4 linked regions of the Homo sapiens genome follow. The protein of the gene in region 3 purifies or fractionates together with the protein of the main gene of each other region. This does not show direct contact. Each region holds a gene or a part of one and is shown on either strand. Other genes may lie near its edges.

Region 1 (3,500 bases), on a different chromosome or scaffold from region 3:
GATTTTAGAAAAACCTCTCAAAGTAAAGTAAATCTTTCTACCATAATTGAATTTGCATCCAACAGTTAACTACATCTGAATTATACTGCCACTCTGGGAAGAATTTGGCATTTTTTGATCATTAAATTAAAAAGTGGGCATAATACTCCATCTACTGATACATCTGTTTGTATAAATTATTCTAGGTTTGAAAGAAATTTGGTACAAGGATGGAGGAAAGGGGTATCATACCATCTACATATTTTTTAAACCCGTCCATTTTGTTGCCATCCTATATTAAGCATGCAACCAGTGTTTTTTAAAGCCTTCAGTGAGCAACAATTATTTTACTAGCAATACAGAAGATGGAAAGGAAAGGAAAGGAAAGGAAAGGAAAGGAAAGGGGAAAGGGGAAATGGGAAAGGGGAAAGAGGAAAAAGGAAAGGAAAGGGGGGAGGAAGGGGCAGAAGGAAAGAAGGGAGGGAGGGAGAGAAAGAAAGAAAGTTTTTTTAGATTCCTTTATACCTTCTCCTAATACCTCCCCCACCATGACCAATGACATTCATTTCATAAAGCAGCTAACTGGTGAACCTAATTTTACAGGCTATGACAAACCAAACCCTTATGAAAAGACATTATGGTGGCATTCTTAACACCCTGTGCTTCCAGACCTAAATAACTACAGGTACAATGGGGAGCCACGTAAGCCTTTAAAAGCAGTTGACAGTCAAATACAATTTAATATCATTTAAAGCTACCAACTTTGAATCCTATAGGGTTAAGTTAACCGATAATTTATTTGCTGTCACAAAATGTACTCTGTTATTATTTTCCATGTTTAAGTGGTGTTCCTCAAAAGCTAATTTTTCTAACCAACTAATTAATGAATGGAATATTTAAATAATCTTAGTTTAAGATGAAAAACAGGCAGGTTATTTCTAAATTCCACCTGCAATTAATAAAACGTACATTAGTAAGTCCAATACATAGTTTACCGAACTCAAGGACTTTTACCTACAGTAATTCCATTCTATAGATGGAGAAAATAATGTATAGTAAGAGTAAACCGGTTTTTTTCCTAAAAGGAAAGAAATAGCAGCAAAGAATTCCAGTGACTCCCTAAAAATGAGAATGCCACACAACTATGTACATGTAAGGAGACTTTAAACACTGAGGCTATGACTGGAATAGATCACTAAGGGATTGGTATTAGAGATGAAAATATCGGTGGTCCTGTCCCTAACACCACTGAAACATTCAACACCTTACAAAATAAAGGGAATATTCAACACCTTACAAAATAAAGTAAAAAGACACCCGACAAGCAAAAGAAAGCCACCTAATGAAGACCCTAAAAAGGAAATCTAAGGAAGAGTTCTGACTTCGGGGGGGGTCTAGTTAGAATAAATGGATAAAAAGGAAAAAGGCAATAGACATAGGAGGTCTAGCATTTTCCATGAGAAATAAAATTCAGTACATTTTGGTCTTGATTTCAAAGAATAGTAAAATTGCTTCCAAACAATAACAGTTCTGTGAGCAATAAATAATACATAAAATGTATTTACAGGCTAAAAAGTAAAATTTAAGGGCTTAACTTCATTGATCTACACTAAGGGTTTAACTTCATTGTCTACTGCTAGGTGAACACTAAATACTGAATCCTGAAATAGTACAAACCCAAACCAAAGTATAATCAAAATCATAATTTGATAAAACCATGAGAAAAGCATTAAGATTATAAAAGCTACTCTATGTTTCCTAGGCATCCCACTCACCTCTCAGAAAAAAAAAAAAAAAAAAAAAAAAACAAAAAAAAAAAACGTGAAGCCTTGAAATTAGCAGTTAAAAGACCAAAAGTAACTCCCCTAAATCTATTCATCAAGTAAGGTAAGGGAAATTAGGATTTGCTGAGAGGCTCTTTCATGCCAGGCACTTGTACACACCCTGCCTGGTCTAATTCTAACAAACCTGAAGTAGTCATAATCTCTTTACAAGTGAGGAAACCAAGGCTTAGAGGAGTCAACTTCCTTGCCGTTTGTTAGAACAGTGTTTCTCAATCTTGGCACCATTGACATCTGGGGCTAAAAAATTTTGAGGGTGGCGGGGGGAGGTAGAAGATGCTGTCTTACGGATTGTAGCATGCTTACCAGCATCCCTGGTCTCTACACACTGGATGCCAGTAGCATACTTTGAGTTGTGACAACCCAGCATTTCTCTAAACATTGCCAAATGTCCCCCGGGGGCAAAACAATCCTGAGATGAGAACCACTTAGAAGGAAGAAGCCAGCATTTTCATTCAATTGACAGTAGGTACGTCCCAGAGTCTGTTCAAGATGAATAAAGGACAAATTGAGGTCTCTGCCTTCAAGAGCTCACTTTGAATCCTGGTGCTTGATTTAACACCTCTCTCCATGCATAGCTATATGAGCCTCACATCATGACAGTCTGACCTATATATTCCCTTCAGCCAGCCCCTAAATCGGCTCACTCCTTCAACCACAATCAATGGCACCTTCACTGACCCAAATGACATCTTGCAGTCATGTCTGATTCAACTATTCCCTTAATTCTCTGTATCTAGTCACTGTCCAAGTCCTGCTGATTTTTCCTAGGAGTAAAATATCTCTGTCATCCATCCCTACCCTTCATTCCCATTACTCTAATATAGATACAAACCACACTCCCTTTATCTTCTAACAGATGAAATCAGGAGTAACTAATCTCTCTTGGCCCCTCATATGAATTAGGGGTACATATCAAGATATAATAACTGATCTACCAACTTTTAGGATAGAGGGCTGGCAGACTTCAGAGCAGTCCCCAATGACCACATCTTTCTCTGGGGTGGGGAGGGATGCTGGAATTTCTCATCTGATACTAGTTTCATAAGCCAAATATTAACTCTTAAGTAAACAGTAACCCTCACAAGCATTAAGAAAAGGACACAGCAGAAATTAGTTTGCATACCACTACAAAGTGGTTTGCATGCTATTTCTGGCATTTGTGCCATGAACTGCTTTTGCCTGCTTCAAAAGAAGGTAGAACTGACACTCAACAGAGCAAGTAAGGTACAACTCCCAAGCTTAATTAAGCCAACTAATATTTCCACCCCTGATGATGTAGAAACCTAGATGAAGGCAGGTAAAGCAAACATGCTGCTAGGGAAACACTAAAAATAGATGGCCAAACAAAATCTAGTGAAATGCCTGCATACAAAGAGAGATATAAATCTCATATATAACATATACAAATAAAATCACAGCATCAAAAGGCTAATTTATTTATACTACAAATGAAAAAGGCTCCGATTTAAGATGAGAGGAAATCCAGGACCTGGTTCAAAGTTGGATCTTGCCCTTAGGCAGAGAATAACAGAACGTTTATGTACTAATGTACTAATGCTCTATTCTTTTTAACTTCAGGACACCATAACCAAGATAAATTTCTGAAATTCACAACTTAACCAAAACTTTTAATTTTTACTTTGCGTGTTTAAATTTTCAAAAAAACACATTTACATA
Region 2 (3,500 bases), on a different chromosome or scaffold from region 3:
TATGATAGTTTCATTAGTCATGGGGAAAAAGTGGTTTGTTAGGAAGAATGATAGAAAATAAATATGATGGGGGCAAAAGGGGATTTATGGCTTGAGAGAGCCAGGAGTTTCACTGTGGACACTGGCAAGGTAGCCTTAGGAAAGCTCTTTTTCCTTCATTCCTATGCCTGAGTTTTCTGATTTGTAAGGCAGGGAGTGCCTACTACAGTACCATGCACATCCATTTTAGGTAGTCTATTAATACTAGATGGTAGCATGGAGCGATAGATGAGAGGCAGTTATTTTGCCTCTCAGGTTCATGGGAAAAAAAATAGTTATTTGTAATAAATTTTACAAGGCTTAGGAAAATACCTTTCTTATAAGTTTGATTTTAGGTATTTATATGCTAAAACTCACTTGTTGCTGTCTCTGAAAGAAGCTTGTAACTCATTCTTCATTCACTTAATAAATATTTAATGAGCATATGCCAGCTACTGTGTTAGGTGCTGTGGATGCTAATATAAATAAGATGTTCTCCGCTTCCTCAAATCTCATTCATTTTAAAGGAGGAGTTAGATATACAAATGGATAATTACAAGACAATGTGATAAGTGTGACAATAGATGCATATGTGGATTACAATTACGTCACTGCAATTTGACTTAAGTATAATATTGATGGCTCATAAAAATTTTTTTTAGAATAAGTAATGCATGCATCTAGTATAAAAATCAGAAGGCACATAGGGTAAACAGAGAAAAGTAATTCAGACTCCCTGCTACCCCTATCTCCTGGCCATTCAGTTTCCTTCCTCAGAGGCAGCCAGGATTACAGTGTATAGCCTATACATAAAAATAGCAGTTAATTAAAATGAAAACCAATTTTAATGTTTGTGTTTTGAATACGAATAATTTCACAAAGTAAAAAAATTCAAAAGGGCCCGGGCACAGTGGCTCATGCCTGTAATCCCAGCACTTTGGGAGGCCGAGGTAGGAGGATCACCTGAGGTCAGGAGATCAAGACCAGCCTGGCCAACATGGTGAAACCCTCTCTCTACTAAAAATACAAAAATTAGCCAGGAGTGGTGGCACACACCTGTAATCCCAGCTACTTGGGAGGCTGAGGCATGAGAATTGCTTGAATGCGGGACTTGGAGGTTGCAGTGAGCCGAGACTGTGCCACTGCACTCCAGCCTGGGCAACAGAGTGAGACTCTGTCTCAAAAAAAAAAAAAAAAAAAAATTTTTTTTCAAAAGGAAATGAAGGGGTACAGAGTAAATTGCAACTTGTTTGTCTCTGGAAAGAAGATGGGCATTTGGCCTAATCTAACCCAGGAGATGACAGTGTTAATCCTTGTACTTCATACTAGCTGCTGTAACAACCCTTAAATCTAAGTGGTTTAATACAATTGGATTGTATTTCTTTTTTATCATATTTTTTTTGGGACAGAGTCTCCCTCTGTCACCCAGGATAGAATGTGCAGTGGTGCGATCTTGGCTCACTGCAACCTCTGCCTCCAAGGTTCAAGCCATCCTCCCACCTCAGCCTCCGAAGTATCTAGGATTACAGACGTGCACCACCATGCCTGGCTAATTTTTGTATTTTTAGTAGAGACGGGGTTTAACCATGTTGGCCAGGCTGGTCTCGAACTCCTGACCTCAAGTGATCTGCCCACCTCGGCCTCTCAGAGTGCTGGGTTTACAGGTGTGAGCCACCACGCCTGGCCAGGAGTGTATTTCTTGATTACATCTCAGACTCATGCCAGATAGGCAGCTCTCCTAGATACCACATCACTCATGTAGTTACAAGGTATCCGAGGTTCTTCCATGGTGTGGCTCTGCTATTTCCCAGCCCTTCTTTCCTAGCTGCACAGACTGGAGAATGTGAATTAAGGATTGTGGGAGATTTTAGTTGCCAGCAGTGGAAGTGTTGTACATACATAATTTTGTCATTATTTCATTGGCCCAAACTAGTTATCTTCCCTCTCCTAGTTGCTGGGAAGGCTGAGAAATGTATTCTTTCTGTGCCCTGGAAGAGGAATAGGATTTGTGAACATCAAGCTATTTATTCTCTGCCATAGTCTTCTGGTTCCTTAAACTTGACTCTAACCTTAGTATCTCTTCTCTTTCACTGTAGGTAGTATACCTGGCCAGTGAGACCTTCAACTATAGTGCCATTGACCGAGTGAAGTCCAGGGGCAAGCGGCTTGCACTAGAGAAAGTGCCAAAAGTTGGACAGCGGTTTAACCGCATCGGGCTACCACCAAAGGTATAGACGCACCTCTGGCTTATCAAGGGTCATGATTTATAGTGACATAGTCATCCAAGTGGTGAAGCAAGGTGCCTACAACTCAAATATGGGCACGTGAATAACCTGCCCTGAGGATCCTGTCTTCCTTATTTCTGTCAAGTGGCTAAGGTTTGAAAAGTTGAGACCTAACTTTTCACTTTACTCCTCTGGTTCATTTGGATAGGTTCTTTAATTTGGATGGATGATCACTGTTACATCTCTTTTCTCCTGTACTTGCAAGAAATGAGGAAGTAAAGATCTTGAAAAGTTTTCCTTCTCTGATACAAACTCCATAGGGCCTTAATGGGTATCTGGCATATACTCCAAAGGTCTTTGGATTTGGGCAGTAGGGAAAAACCTTTGTTCCTTCCTCTTGGTTCCAGGTTGGTTCATTCCAGCTCTTTGTTGAAGGCTACAAAGATGCAGACTATTGGCTGCGGCGTTTTGAAGCAGAACCTCTTCCTGAGAACACTAACCGGCAACTACTGCTCCAGTTTGAGCGGTTGGTGGTGCTGGATTACATCATCCGCAACACTGGTGAGCAGCTGCAGGTGGTCCCATGCCCTGTGCCAGACTGTGTTGAGGCATGGGGAGGCCTGGAGGCTTGCAGGGCTTGGGAGTCAGAGTACCTTGTCCAGACACATCATGTGTAGTTTTCAGAAGTGGTGAGGCCTGGAGTTAGTATTTGCATTTTATCTTACACTCTTTCCTGGTTCCAGACAGAAGACACTTAACTCTTCCAAAGCACTGTGAAGAGTACTCTTATCCTTGATCCCTAGTCATTCTTGTAGCCTCAAGACCTGTAACAGGACAGTTTTGTCTTCCTCTGACTTCTTGAGGTAGATGTTTAGATCATTGATATTTAAAAAAAATTTTTTTTCAGTGCAATTTAAATTCAACTAACCTGGTAAAATGTACATGTATTGAGGACAAAAGTCTTTAAATTCAGGCTGGATGTGGTGGCTCATGCGTGTACTCCCAGCACTTTGGGAGGCCAAGGTGGACAGATCATTTGAGGCCGGGAGTTCCAGACCAGCCTGGACAACATGGTGAAACCCTGTCTCTACTAAAAATACAAAAATTAGCCGGGTGTGGTGGCGGGCACCTGTAGTCCCAGCTATTCAGGAGGCTGAGGTGGGAGAATCGCTTGAACCTGGGAGGCGGAGGTTGCAGTGAGTCAGAATTGCACCACTGCACTCTAACCTGGGTGACAGAGCAAGACTCTGTTTCCAA
Region 3 (4,298 bases):
CTGGCGTTTGTCCCTCTGTCCAGGTCTGTCTCTGTGTCCACCCATCCCCCACCCAGGCTTTGCCCTGTGTCTGGGACACGGGGGCCTGGCTCTTCTCTCATGCTCCTTTCCATCCCCTGGCAGTGCCCACAGGATCAGACATGAAAGCAAAGCCCTCCTCAGGAAACAGCAAAGTGCTGAGCTGAGTGCACTCTTGGGGGGGGTGGTCCCCTGCAACCCGTGCCCCACGGGCCGGTTAGGAAGCTGAGTCCGGAGATGCCAAGACCAAGTCCAGGCTGGGTCAGGGGTTCGGTTTGCCGCTGTGGGTTCCTGGCTGAGAGGTCAGTGCAGTACTGAGCAGTGGCCAGACGAGGGCGCAAGAGACAGCAGGCACCACAGCCTGAGCAGGAGCTGGAAGCCTGGGCCTGCAGCCCTGGGGGTTGCTGGTGATGACGGACTCTGCCTTCCTTCCACCCTCTGCTGTGTGACGTGGGCAGGCCAGTGCCCTCTCTCTGAGGAGGTTGCCTTTCCAGAATATCAAGGCTGACTTTGGAGCCATGCAGGTGGGTTCAAATCCTGGTTAGTCTCTTACTAAGCTGTGAGATCCTGGCTAATCCCTGTGGTCCTGAGCCCCACAGACACCGAGAAGGGCCACATCCATTTGGAAACTGATTAGACAGTCTTGGGAGGGAAGACAGGCAGGAGGACGGTAGTGAGGTCCCCGTCACTGGAGGTATAGGTTCCCGGCTGGGCAGCAGCTTGGGGCATAGGCTACGGCTGGGAATGGGTGGGTCCCTCCAACGCTGACAGCCTGTGACACACACAGAGGAGGGACCTGGTGCCCCTCACACCTGCAGATCTGAAAGCAGAACTAGGGAGCCGCAGGGGCAGAGAGAGGACAGCCTTCCCCCAGCCTCTTCCAGCAAGGGTAGGCTGGGCCTGCGCAGACAGCCTCTCCCAGGGACGGTCAGGAGTGATACTAAGGGTGGACTTCCGGCCCGTCCTGTACCTGGCATCCCACCATCAGTGCCCAGTAGAAAGGATCCACAGCCCCTTGTGATGGTGAGGAAGGAGAAGGCACAGCAGAGGCCTGGGGGTCAGGAGGGCTCAGCTGCAACCCTGGGTTTGCTGCTGACTTGCTGTGGACCTGGAAACCCCACTGCCCCTCTCTGGGCCTCAGTTTCCCTCACAAGCTCAGACATCACAGATGTCAAATTAGTTTCTGAACAAGAGAGAGGAGAGGTCAAGGCTGGGGTCTGGCCCTGGGTCCACCTGGCCGGCTCTGAGGTTCTGGGGACTGGTGGGACAGAAGGAGGGCTCTTTTGGACGCCAGAAGTTTCCGGGGGACTAGGACTTCATGGTCCTTGTTTGGGCCCTGGGTCAGCCTGCCCTGGACTCCATTTAGCAGTTCTGGTTCGGAACCATGGTAAAAATGGGGAGGGTAGAGCTCTCAGAATCACACGGCAAAGGCAGGCAGGGGCTACTGGGCACCCCTAGGACCCCAGCAGGGGCTGAGCCCCCTCCAGTGGCCCTGGGGCCTCCAGGAGACCTCTGCAGAGTCACTGTGAGTGGACAAGATGCACCACACACAGGGGACACACACTGGCCACCCAGACACTTGGCCACAGGGCAGACATGGGCACAGCCATATGTACACATAAGGGTACCCACATGTGGGCACTCAGCACCAGGGACACACACCCAGACACATATAGGCACAGAGCTCCATATGCACACTCACAAGTGTGCCAGCCTCTGCCAGGCCTGTCTTGGCTCCCGAGACAACCATACTGCAGGAGCGTCCCACGCTGCCTCTGATTCTGCACTCCCAGCCCGGTGGGACAGGTCCGGAGATGCCCAGAAAGGAACTATCATCCCTGGGACCAGAACCAATCTCTGTCCTCCGCCTGACATGCCAACATGAAGGCACCAGGTATTCAGAATGTGAGAGTTTCTCTGCTCCGGGGGCCTCAAACGTCCCTGGATGTCCCTTGCTCAGGCAGGGAAGCTGGCAGCAGAGTCTGTCTCTCTCTAACTTGTCATATGGGGTGACGGGTGTGGGGTATGGCCTCTGTGTGTCAGTGGCGGCCTGGTTTGGCAGGCGGTCAGAGGTCGAGGACTCAGTGGCTGTGGTTGGTGGTGCCCTGGCCCTGAACACCACTAACCACTCAAAGGAACCATAACACTGAGCCGGCTCCTCAGAACCCAGAGACTCTGCCTCCTGTTCACCGAAGGCCCCCGGGCAGGGCTTCCCCTCCGGCCTCGTCCCCATCTCAACAGCGAGTTGGCAGGATTTTCTATTCTCGCACAGTGGCTTGCCAGGAAGGCCTTCCCCTGGATGGAGAGGAAGAGGGGCTCGCTGGTGTCACGCAAGGGATGTCAGAGTCTGGAGGACAGGCCCGGGGTAGGGGCTGGTGCAGGCAGCGGGAGGCGCCCGGACTCACCCGATGACGTAGACCAGGACCACCAGCTGGATCAGTCGGAAGATAACGCCCACCTTCTTATTACGCACCAGCACCATGCGGGGGGTGTCATACTCGAAGAGGAAGGCGGCCAGCTCCTCCTGGAACCGCCGTGCCATGGTGGGCCGGCTGGGGCTCAGAACTGAGCCCCCTGCACGGCCTCTGCTCTCAGGGTGAGCCGGGTGCCACCACCCACGTCGATGGTAGAGCTTCTGGGGGCTTCCTGGCCCCTTAGGAAGAGCAGGGCGGTGCAGGTGGAGCCAGAGGACAGGAGCCAGAGGTCAGCTGGAGGCACTTGGGTTGGAGAGAGAATCCCTGGGTGATCAGAGCAGCTCTTGGCCCCTGGAAGGCAACAGACTGCAGGCCAGCCTCGCCCATGGACAAATAAATTCCCAAAGATAGATGGGGCGGGGCTGGTGGGGCCACCCAGGCCCAGCCCCACTGCCCCTCCTGGCTCTGCGTGGGCCTTGTTGGGCCTCCGGAAACAGGAGTTGTTGGCAGGAAACCACAGGCCACCCGTCACAGGGGCAAAGATAAAGCTCTCAGTCGACTCCTCAAGTTATCCTCCCCCCAAAACCTGGCAAGATGGAGCTCTGGCCAGGGCCTGGGGGAAGCTGGAGTCTCCTCAGATTAGGGGACTCCCCGCGACTCCCCTCCACTGCCAAAATGAGACCTCCATCCCCAGCCCCATCCACCACCCTCCACCCTCCCCCACCAGGGTTGGCTGCTTCGTCCCTGGGGGTCTGCAGCGAGCAAGGCAGAGAGGAAGGAGGCTCTGAGTTCCAGCCTGGCCTGTGCCCGGTCAACCTCGGTGCTGAGCTGGCATCTCTATCCCCCAGCTCTCCTCTCCCACTGTCTGTCCTGCCGGGGCCACCATCAGAGGGAGAGAGGTGGCAGGTGCCCAGCCAAGACCAGCACCACATCCGTCACCAGTGCCATGGGGGGCCCAAGACCAGCCGAGAGAGCCTGACCTCGGAGATCCCTGGCTCTGCCACTTCTTGGCTGTGGGGGCTGGGTGTCACCTTGCCTCTCCGAGCCTGCTTCCTCATCTGTAAATTGGGGTAATAAGGGCTGTTCCTTCTAGGTCGAGGCTCACAGGGGATGGGTCTCAGCAACACGGGACAGAGAACTGGAGGCCACCATTGAGTCTGGGGCACAGCACCTCTGCAGTCCCTGCCTTCCCTTCCCACCCCCAGCTCGGGCCCTGAACACAGGGGTTTGGGGTGGGCAGAGGGTCCCACGTTGGCTCCTCAGAGCTGGAGGCCTCCCCAGCCCCACCCCTCGTTTTGAAGATGAGAAAACCAAGCTCAGAGAAGAGAAATGAGTTGCCCAAGCTCACCCGGGGTGGTACTGGAGGTTCAAGCTGGAAGCAGGGGCCTCCCTGGCGAGCCCCCACGGCCCTGTCGTCGGAGCCGCCCCACCCTTAAGGCTGATAAGGAGTCTTCTTGCTGGCGAGCCATGAGCTGGAAGTGCTCTGGGCAGGGAGCCAGGCCCTGGGGCTGGGAATCCCGGCAGCCTGTCTGAATGGGGGTCACCCACAGAGGGCTGCCCATGGCCCCTTCCAGCACCCAGGTCAGTCTCTCCTTGTCAAGTAGATCAGCCTCACCCCTCGCGGAGTTTCTGCTAATCCAGTGGGTGTCATGGGCTTTTCTAAAGAAAATCCAGAGATGCTGGGAGCCAGAACTGTGGTGGCCACGTCTCCCCTTGGCCTGACCTTGACCCTAGACAGTTCCTTTCCCAGCTGCCCCTGTGGCCATTGGAATGGGAGGCACCAGGACACAGCTGCTTGTGATGGGGAGTGGGGTGGGTGCTGAGACTGTGTGGGCCATTCTGGGTCCCTTTTCAGCCACCCTTCTC
Region 4 (3,500 bases), on a different chromosome or scaffold from region 3:
ACCGTGTTAGCCAGGATGGTCTCGATCTCCTGACCTCGTGATCTGCCCGCCTCAGCCTCCCAAAGTGCTGGGATTACAGGCATGAGCCACCGCGCCCGGCCTCAGTAAACTTTTTTTTGAGATGGAGTCTTGCTCTGTCGCCCAGGCTAAAAGGCAGTGGTGTGATCTTGGCTCACTGCAACCTCTGTCTCTGGGTTCAAGTGATTCTCATATCTCAGCCTCCCGAGTAGCTGGAATTAGAGGCGTGCACCACCACACCCAGCTAGTTTTTGTATTTTTAGTATTGATGGGGTTTCATCATGTTGGCCAGGCTGGTCTTGAACTCCTGACCTCAAGTGATCCACCCACCTCGGCCTCCCAAAGTGCTGGGATTACAGGCATAAGCCATCATGCCCGGCCCATTCAGTATACATTTTTTGACCAGCCACCACATGTTAGGCCCTGTTTTGGGTGCTGGGTGTACACACAGTAGTGAGTGACATGGTGAAGTCACCCCTCTCTGAGACTTACGCTCTGGTTCTAGAAGACAGACAATAACAAAGGCATGAGGAGGTAATCGTAGTGGTTGTGGTGCTGAGGGAGGGAACCCTGCAGGTGTCTGGGGGAAGAGCGCTCCGGTAGCAGGCACAGCCTGTGCAAAGGCCCAGAGGCGGGAGTGTGCTGACGCATCTGAACACCAGCCAGCCAGCCAGTGCAGAGGGGCTGGGAGCCAGGGAGCGTGGTGGGGGTGGTGGGTGCTGGCCAGATCCTGTCAGGCCCCACGGGCATGGAGAGGACTTGGCTGTGACTCTGAGGAGCACACAAGCCTCCAGGGGGCTCTCAGCCAAAGAGAGACAGGAGTTGACTCAGAGCTTTTAAAATAACTTTATTAAGATATAATTAACATACCATAGCTCGTCCCTCTAAGTGTATAATTTAATAGTTTTAGTATATTCGCAGATATAGGCAGCCATCCACATAGTCAATTTTAGAGCATTTTCATCACCTCCAAAAAGAAACCCCACATCTCTCAGCTGTCACCCGCCCCCTCCTCCCCGACACTCCCAGCCCTAAGCAACCACTAACCTACTTTCTGTCCGTATGGTTTTGCCTATTCTGGACATTTCATAAAAATGGAAGCATACAGCTGGGTGTGGTGGCTCACGCCTGTAATCCCAGCACTTTGGGAGACCGAGGCAGGAGGATCGCTTGAACTCAGGAGATGGAGACCAGCGTGGGCAACATAGGGAGAGCATGTCTCTATAAAAAATTAGCCAGGCATGGTGGTGTGGACCTGTGGTCCCAGCTACGTGGGAGACCGAAGCGGGAGGATCGCATGAGCCTGGGAGATCAAGGCTGCAGTGAGCTGTGATCTCGCCACTGTTCTCCAGCCTGGGTGACAGAGTGAGACCCTGTCTTAAAAAAAAAAAACAGGGTGGGAGGAGGGGAGCACAGACGTGGTGGCTTATGCCTGTTATCCCAGCACTTTGAGAGGCCGATGAGGGCAGATCACTTGAGGCCAGGAGTTCAAGACCAGCCTGGCCAACATGGCAAAATCCCGTCTCTACTAAAAATACAAAAGTTAGCTGGGTGTGGTGGTGGTGCCTGTAATCCCAAGCTACTCCGGAGGCTGAGGCAGGAGAATTGCTTGAACCCAGGAGGTGGAGGTTGCAGTGAGCTGAGATCGTGCCACTGCACTCCAGCCTGGGCAACAGAGCGAGACTCTGTCTCAAAAAAAAAAGAAAAAAGAAAAAAAGAAAAAGAAAAAGAAATATATATCCATGACATAGACAGAGCGGACAGGAATGAGCAGAGGTCTCTGTGAGAGAGTGTGGGGGAGCCCTGGTGTGGGCCTATCCTGGCACCCGTGGCTCTGGACAGGGGACAGGATGGGGCAGGGAGCTTCCTGGTGTCTGCGTGGCTCAGGCACGCCACCCTCTGATCGGTCCCCAGCTCTCCATCCATGAGACCGAGGACCCCAACGACAACCGATACCTGCTGGTGATGAAGGGTGCCCCCGAGCGCATCCTGGACCGCTGCTCCACCATCCTGCTACAGGGCAAGGAGCAGCCTCTGGACGAGGAAATGAAGGAGGCCTTCCAGAATGCCTACCTTGAGCTCGGTGGCCTGGGCGAGCGCGTGCTTGGTGCGAGGCTGCCGGGCGGGCTCTGGGGTCCCTGGAGGGCAAGGAGGGTTGTGATGCTGCCCAAAGCCTGTCTCAGCCCAGGGCCTCCCAGAATATACTGTAAATGAATGAATGAATGAATGAATGGATGGATGAGAGGGGAAGGTATCCTAGGAAATGAATGCTGACTGGCCGTCTTGCTGATGGGGAGATGGAATGCGGGCGATGCAGACATCTAGGGGCATGGGGCGGAGGTTCCGAGGCTGGGACCCTCACACCCCAACCCTTCCCTGCCACTAGGTTTCTGCCATTATTACCTGCCCGAGGAGCAGTTCCCCAAGGGCTTTGCCTTCGACTGTGATGACGTGAACTTCACCACGGACAACCTCTGCTTTGTGGGCCTCATGTCCATGATCGACCCACCCCGGGCAGCCGTCCCTGACGCGGTGGGCAAGTGTCGCAGCGCAGGCATCAAGGTGTGGCTTGGGGTGGCTGGGGGAGGCAAAGCCAGGCGTGGGGCGGGAGAGGCCATCCCTAAAAAACAATGCCTGCAGGTCATCATGGTCACCGGCGATCACCCCATCACGGCCAAGGCCATTGCCAAGGGTGTGGGCATCATCTCTGAGGGCAACGAGACTGTGGAGGACATCGCCGCCCGGCTCAACATTCCCGTCAGCCAGGTTAACCCCCGGTGAGCCACCCATCCCAGCCAGGGCCCTGGACATCCCTCTAGGGTGTTGACACAGGGGGACCGCTTCCCCCCAACCTCCCTCTGCACTGCCTGTCCCATTCTTTCTGGGACTCCTCCATGGACCAGGCCCTGGGTCTGGCCCTCCCTCCGGTGTGGGGACATTGCAGCCACAGAGGTAGCCAGGCATAGGTTTGCATCCCAGCCTTTATTTTATTTTATTTATTTATTTATGTTTTTGAGATGGAGTCTTGCTCTGTCGCCCAGGCTGGAGTGCAGTGGGGCAACCTCAGCTCACTGCAGCCTCCGCCTCCCGGGTTCAAGCAATTATCTGCCTCAGCCTCTTGAGTAGCTGGGATTACAGGGGCCCTCCACCATGCCCCGCTAATTTTTTTTTTTTTTTTTTGTATTTTTAGTAGAGACGGGGGTTTCACTATGTTGGCCAGGCTGGTCTCGAACTCCTGACCTCAGGTGGTCCACCTGCCTTGGCCTCCCAAAGTGCTGGGATTACAGGCGTGAGCCACTGCGCCCGGCCTGCATTCCAGCTTATACCGCTCACAAGCTGTGTGACATTGGGCAAGTCCTTTAGCATCCATGAACTTCAGTTTGCCCATCTCTAAAATGGGCTACTAATAATTCCTATCTCAGAGGATTCAGTAGAATCCAGTACTTCTGTGTCTGTCTCTCTTTTTTCCTGTCTGTCTGTCA

The links. Proteins that work in one complex are often made in the same cells at the same time.
Region 1: the proteins of P2RX1 (region 3) and ATP2C1 purify together in Homo sapiens (affinity purification with mass spectrometry; one large-scale study listed by BioGRID and IntAct). This does not show direct contact.
Region 2: the proteins of P2RX1 (region 3) and PI4K2A purify together in Homo sapiens (affinity purification with mass spectrometry; one large-scale study listed by BioGRID and IntAct). This does not show direct contact.
Region 4: the proteins of P2RX1 (region 3) and ATP1A3 purify together in Homo sapiens (affinity purification with mass spectrometry; one large-scale study listed by BioGRID and IntAct). This does not show direct contact.

The regions. Positions count from the first base shown.
Region 1 is NC_000003.12:130,900,584-130,904,083, reverse strand, and holds part of ATP2C1 (calcium-transporting ATPase type 2C member 1), read right to left. Parts: intron 1-3,500. UniProt on the Homo sapiens protein: ATP-driven pump that supplies the Golgi apparatus with Ca(2+) and Mn(2+) ions, both essential cofactors for processing and trafficking of newly synthesized proteins in the secretory pathway.
Region 2 is NC_000010.11:97,654,171-97,657,670, forward strand, and holds part of PI4K2A (phosphatidylinositol 4-kinase type 2-alpha), read left to right. Parts: intron 1-2,114; coding exon 2,115-2,246; intron 2,247-2,650; coding exon 2,651-2,804; intron 2,805-3,500. UniProt on the Homo sapiens protein: Membrane-bound phosphatidylinositol-4 kinase (PI4-kinase) that catalyzes the phosphorylation of phosphatidylinositol (PI) to phosphatidylinositol 4-phosphate (PI4P), a lipid that plays important roles in endocytosis, Golgi function, protein sorting and membrane trafficking and is required for prolonged survival of neurons.
Region 3 is NC_000017.11:3,913,666-3,917,963, forward strand, and holds the start of P2RX1 (P2X purinoceptor 1), read right to left. Parts: upstream 2,801-4,298; 5' UTR 2,561-2,800; coding exon 2,424-2,560; exon of another isoform or gene 1,894-2,423; coding exon of another isoform or gene 1,721-1,893; intron 1-1,720.
Region 4 is NC_000019.10:41,977,231-41,980,730, reverse strand, and holds part of ATP1A3 (sodium/potassium-transporting ATPase subunit alpha-3), read left to right. Parts: intron 1-1,932; coding exon 1,933-2,125; intron 2,126-2,404; coding exon 2,405-2,580; intron 2,581-2,658; coding exon 2,659-2,795; intron 2,796-3,500. UniProt on the Homo sapiens protein: This is the catalytic component of the active enzyme, which catalyzes the hydrolysis of ATP coupled with the exchange of sodium and potassium ions across the plasma membrane.